Regions from separate parts of the Homo sapiens genome. Here region 1 is linked to region 2. The links come from fine-mapping of genetic effects on gene expression. A gene starts in region 2. The other region holds a variant in brackets. All regions are shown on one strand. Distances are from middle to middle.

Region 1 (2,897 bases), 51 kb before region 2:
CTGCAGTCCCAGCCACTCGGGAGGGTGAGGCAGGAGAATGGCATGAACCTTGGAGGCGGAGGTTGCAGTGAGCCGAGATTGTATCACTGTACTCCAGCCTGGGGGACGGAGCGAGACTCCGTCTCAAAAAAAAAAAAAAAAAAAAATTTAAGTAAAAAAATTTGAATATAATAAACTAGTTGCAGCGGGTGCAGTGGCTCATGCCTGTAATCAGTCCCAGCACTTTGAGAGGCTGAGGCGAGTGATCACAAGGTCAAGAGATCGAGACCATCCTGGCCAACACGGTGAAACCCTGTCTCTACTAAAAATACAAAAATTAGCTGGACGTGGTGGCCTGCGCCTGTAGTCCCAGCTACTCAGGAGGCTGAGGCAGGAGAATCGCTTGATCCCAGGAAGTGGAGGTTGCAGTGAGCTGGGATTGCGCCACTGTACTCCAGCCTGGCGACAGAGTGAGTCTCAAAAAATAAAAAATAAAAAAAAAATTACTTAACATAAGTAAAGTATTTCCCTGAGCTCTGTGAGCCATTCTAGAAAATTATCTAACTCCAGGAGAGGGTTTTTGGAAACCCCAGCTTTTAAAAAAATTATTTCTTGGGGCCGGGTGCAGTGGCTCACGCCTGTAATCCCAGCACTTTGGGAGGCCAAGGTGGGCGGATCACGAGGTCAGGAGATGGAAACTATCATGGTTAACACGGTGAAACCTTGTCTCCACTAAAAATACAAAAAATTAGCCGGGCGTGGTGGCGGGCGCCTGTAGTCCCAGCTGCTCGGGAGGCTGAGGCAGGAGAATAGTGTGAACCCGGGAGGCGGAGCTTGCAGTGAGCCAAGATCGCGCCATTGCACTCCAGCCTGGGCGACAGAGCGGGACTCCATCTCAAAATATAATAAAATAAATAAATAAAAATTATTTCTTTATATTTATTTATTTATTTTTGTTTCAACAGGTTTTTGGGGAACAGGTGAACAGGTGGTATTTGGTTACATAAATAAGTTCTTTTTTTTATTTTGTATTTTTTTTTTAGACAGAGTCTCGCTCTGTCACCCAGGCTCGAGTGCAGTGGCTTGATCTCAGCTCATTGCAAGCTCTGCCTCCCAGGTTCAAGTGACTGTCCTGCCTCAGCCTCCTGAGTAGCTGGGATTACAGGCATGTGTTACCATTCCTGGCTAATTTTTGTATTTTTTTAGTAGAGGCAGGTTTTCGTCATGTTGGCCAAGTTTTTTTTGTTTTTGTTTTTTTTTTAATAGAAATATGGTCTCACTATGTTGCGCTGGTTGGTCTTGAATTTCTGGGCTCAAGCAGTCCTGCCACTTAGGCCTCCCAAAGTGCTGGGATTACACATGTGAACCATCACACCCGACCTGAAAGCAAGCTTATCAGGAAAATAAAGGAATAGCCGGGCGCAGTGGCTCACGTCTGTAATTCCAGCACTTTGGGAGGCTGAGGCAGGTGGATCACCTGAGGTCAGGAGTTCGAGACCAGCCTGGCCAACCTGGTGAAACTCCATCTCTATTAAAAATACAAAAATTAGCTGGGTGTGGTGGTGCATACCTGTAATTCCAGCTACTCGGAAGGCTGAGGCAGGAGAATTGCTTGAACCTGGGAGGCAGAGGTTGCAGTGAGTCAAGAT[T/C]GTGCCACTGCACTCCAGCCTGGGCAACAGAGCGGGACTCTGTCTCGAAAAAGAAAAAAAAAAAAAGAATAGGAAAGGAATAAAGAGTGACTCCTCCATAGGCAGAGCAGTGGCATGGGCTGCTTGACTGAGTATACTTACAGTTATTTCTTCATTCTATGCTAAACGAAGTATGGGTTATTCATGAGTTTTCCAGGAAAGGGCAGGGATTTCCCAGAACTGAGGGTTCTTCCTTCTTTTAGACCATATAGGGTAACTTCCGGGTGTTGCCGTGGCACTTGTAAACTGTCATAGTCCTGGTGGGAGTGTCTTTTAGCATGGTAATGTATTATAATTAGTGTATAATGAGCAGTGAGGATGACCAGAGGTCAGTTTCATCACTGTTGGTGGGTTTTGGGGCTGGCTTCTTTACTGCGTCCTGTTTTTGTTTTCTTTTTTTTTTTTTTTTTTGGGATGGAGTCTCGCTCTGTTGCCCCGTCTGGAGTGCAGTGGTGCGATCCTGGCTCACTGCAACTTCTGCCTCCCGAGTTCAAGCAATTCTCTTGCCTCAGCCTCCTGAGTAGCTGGGAGTACAGGTGCCTGCCACCATGTCTGGGTAATTTTTGTATTTTTGGTAGAGACAGGGTTTCACCATGTTGGCCAGGCTGGTCTTGATCTCCTGGCATCAAGTGATTTGCCCGCCTCAGCCTCCCAGAATGCTGGGATTACAGGAGTGAGCCACTGTGCCCTGTCAGCATCCTGTTTTATCAGCAGGGTCTTTGTGACCCGTATCTTGTGATACCAGTCCTGCCAACCTTCTGTCTCATCCTGTGAATAAGAATGTCTCACCTACTGGGAATGCAGCCCAGCAGGTCTCAGCCTCATCTTACCCAGCCCCTATTCAAGATAGAGTCACTCTTTTTCAAATGCTTCCTTCCAAAAACAAAGGATAACAGGCTGGGCGCAGTGGCTCATGTCTGTAATCCCAGCAGTTTGGGAGGCTGAGGTGGGCAGATCACTTGAGGTCAAGAGTTTGAAACCAGCCTGGCCAACATGGTGAAACCCCGTCTCTACTAAAAATACAAAAATTAGCTAGGGGTGGTGGCACATGCCGATAATCCCAGCTACTCGGGAGGCTGAAGCAGGAGAATCACTTGAGCCCAGGAGGCGGAGGTTGCAGCGAGCCGAGATGCCATCACTCTACTGCAGCCTGTCCAGCAGAGTGAGACTCTGTCTCAAACACACACACACACACACACACACACACACACACACACACACACACACACC
Region 2 (2,897 bases):
GGATCTGGCAAGGTAAATGAGGAGAAAGGAAGCAGTGGCTTTAGGGATAAGGCAGTGGGTGACATTCCTATCACAGCCTCCTTTCTTCCCTCTCCTGCCCAGGAAGAAGTACTAAGAGGGCCCTTCAAAGGCAGGGACTGGACAGGGCTGGATTAGTGCATCCTGGGCTGAAGCCAGCTGGGAGGTCAAGGGCAGGAAGCCTGGAGGTGCCGGCCCTAACAGATCCTTGGCAATGAATGCCCTGGCTTGGCAAGGGGAGGGGGCTGCAGACCTGGGTACTCCCAGACACCTGTCCCAGGGAGGCCTGGCACCTCCTCTAGCCAGCCACAGGCATGCTTAGTCATCCTTGGGGCCTGGCACCCTTGGAGCTGGTGGGCCCTGGAAAATGCCCCAGACCTGCCCCTCTCCACTGTACAGAAGGGGAGACTGAGCCCCAGAGATGGCATGGCTTGCCCAGTCACATAGCTAGGTCCCAAGGCCACAACAGCCTGACCCTCTGTGAAGACGCAGGTACCTTAGGTAGGCAGGGGCTACAGGAAGGTGGGCCCCTACCCCAATCAGGTTTTCATGGGCCTGGGAAGAGTTGGTGGCAGGGGGAGGTGTGGAGTCAGGCCCTGCCTTGGGGCCAGGTGGATCTAAGTGACAGGTCAGCGAAGGAGATCCAAGGAGGGGCCCCCAGACCCTGTCCTAGGCTGGGGGAGTCCTTGAACCCTAACTGCAGTGCAGTACTGCGCCTTGGGCCCCAGTGAGGGAGAAGGGGCTAAAGAGGAGGTTAGGATGAGTCATGCTCCCAGCCAAGACTGAGGGCAGGCACCGGGTTTGGGGCACGGACAGGGAGAGTGGATGAGGCTCCCGCAGTACACGGCCTCCGGCTTCCTGGACGCCTATCTCCGCTCTACCCATCTGGCCCCCAATCACCGACACCGGGGGGGCAACTACCCAGTTTCCAAATGTACAGAAGGGGAAACTGAGGACCAGGAAGTCAGCGCCTGGCTCAAGGTCACAGAGCCGGGCAGGCGCCCGGCGGCCACTGGGACCCGGGGCTGCGGCTTCCCCAGCCGCTCTTTCTTCCGAGACTGGATAAAGGGTGGCCCCAGGGCGAGGCCCGGGTGGTGGACAGAGCACGCGGATGGAGGCCGACGCGGGGTGGGCAGTGTCTGGGAGTCCTTCGCGGGGGGACGTGGGAGGAGGAAAAAGGGTCCAGGGGCCCCCAGACCCGCAGGAGGGCAGCTCGCCGGGGGCCGGGGAGGGGGATCCCGGGCGGGAGGGGGACAGGGAGGGGCCTGCGGGCTTCGTAAGGACGAGCTCATCCCGGAGGAGGCAGGGGCGCGGCCTCCTGGCAGACCCGGCCCCCTCCCGTGCCCCACGCTGCCCCGGGCACCCCCTCCAGGCCCTCGCCCCACACCCCGCGGCCCGCGCACCTTCCTCTCCCATACGTTCTTCCCTCCAGGTGCAACAAAGTAGCGTCAACCTCATGCACTCGACGGGGGGCGGGGCCCGGCGGGGCTGGGGCTGGGGGCGGCCGGGCCCGCGAGCTCGCCCACCGCCGCCGGCCCGGGGAGGCGGGGGCGGAGGGCGCGGGCCGGGCCGGGCCGGGCCGGGGGCGCCTCTCGGACACCGGCGGGGAAACCGGCTCGGCGCCGCGGCGGCTTGGGGAGCGAGCGGAGGGGCGGACCGAGGCGGGGCCTGTGAGCTGCGGCACGGGGGCGGGGCGCGGGCGGCCGGCGGCGGGAACGGCCCTGCGCGGCCCCGCCCCCACCAGAAAACCCCGCCCCCACGCCCAAGGCCACGCCTCTAGAGGCCACGCCCCGCTGCGGCCCGGCCTGGGGGCGCCGCGAGCTGGCGCGGCGCGCCCCGCCCCTCCCCGCCCCTTCCGCCCTTCATTCATTCTTCTTTCTCCCAGCGACAGGCCTCGGCTGGGAGCTGCGAGGCCCAGCTGTCTCGGAGGGCCGCTAGCTCTGCTGGGGCAGGCCAGGAGGATGTAGGAGCCTAGAGAAGGGGCCTCCGCTTCCCTGCGCGAGGCCCCCACAGACCCAAACCAGCTGCAGCCGGGAACTCGGATCAGAGCTGGAGAGGCCCTGTGGACCCCCAGGACACTGGTGGTCGCCTTGGGGAGGGGAGGGAGGCGGGCCGGGTTTTGTCCCTCTCTCTGAGGCCTGCATTGAGGCCAGGCTGGGCCCGGGGAAGGTGACGGTCCGCGTCTCAGGCCTCGCGAATGAGCAGCACCAGAGAAAGGAGCGAGCCCCTGCCAGGCGGTGACAGGTGTACTCTTCTCAGTGCCGATTACCTGGAGCTGGGGCTGCCCTGCCCAGGGTCCTGGAGGGAGCACGGGTTTGGGCTGAGTCAAGCGTCCAAAGGAATTGGGTGGTCCAGTCCAGCACTGATGGTGGAACGCCCTGCCTAGATGTGGACAATTCTAGAATGCTGGACATGGGCAGGAAGCAACCCTGTCCCCCCTAGGTCTACCTTCCACGTCATCCCTCTGCCCAGGAAGCAGTGACCGGAGTGGAGCCACGTGCCCACGTGAACCCAGTGAACAAGAGGCAGCGCTAGCCCAGCTCCAACTCTAGTCATCATGTTTGTGGGGAGAGGTCTAGGCACGTCTGCAAAGTGGGGGGCACTCACCCCTGGGTGCAAAACAATTACGTGGGGTGGGAAGAAAATACTAGATTTTTTTTTTCTTTTTTTAGATTCGGTCTCGCTCTGTTGCCTAGGCTGGAGTGCAGTGGCGGGATCTCGGCTCACCGCAGTCTCCACCTCCCAGGTTCAAGCAATTCTCCCACCTTAGCCTCCCGAGTAGCTGATATTACAGGCGTGCACCACCATGACCGACTAATTTTTGTATTTTTAGTAGAGATGAGGTTTCACCATGTTGACCAGGCTGGTCCTGAACTCCT

The links.
Region 1: its variant is fine-mapped to the expression of LIMK1 in whole blood (INTERVAL, PIP above 0.99).

The regions. Positions count from the first base shown.
Region 1 is chr7:74,133,412-74,136,308 of GRCh38, reverse strand. No RefSeq gene overlaps it. Among named protein-coding and RNA genes, the nearest start is that of EIF4H, 39 kb to the left of the region's middle. RefSeq lists an enhancer at 2,459-2,897. The variant T/C (reference allele first, on the strand shown) is at 1,629.
Region 2 is chr7:74,082,570-74,085,466 of GRCh38, reverse strand. LIMK1 (LIM domain kinase 1) reads right to left here and starts at 1,663. Exons shown (of 16, transcript NM_002314.4): 1 at 1,422-1,663. The coding sequence starts at 1,476. RefSeq lists enhancers at 1-338, 850-1,119, 1,606-2,284, 2,180-2,289, 2,285-2,897 and silencers at 1,310-1,359, 1,470-1,519, 1,640-1,909.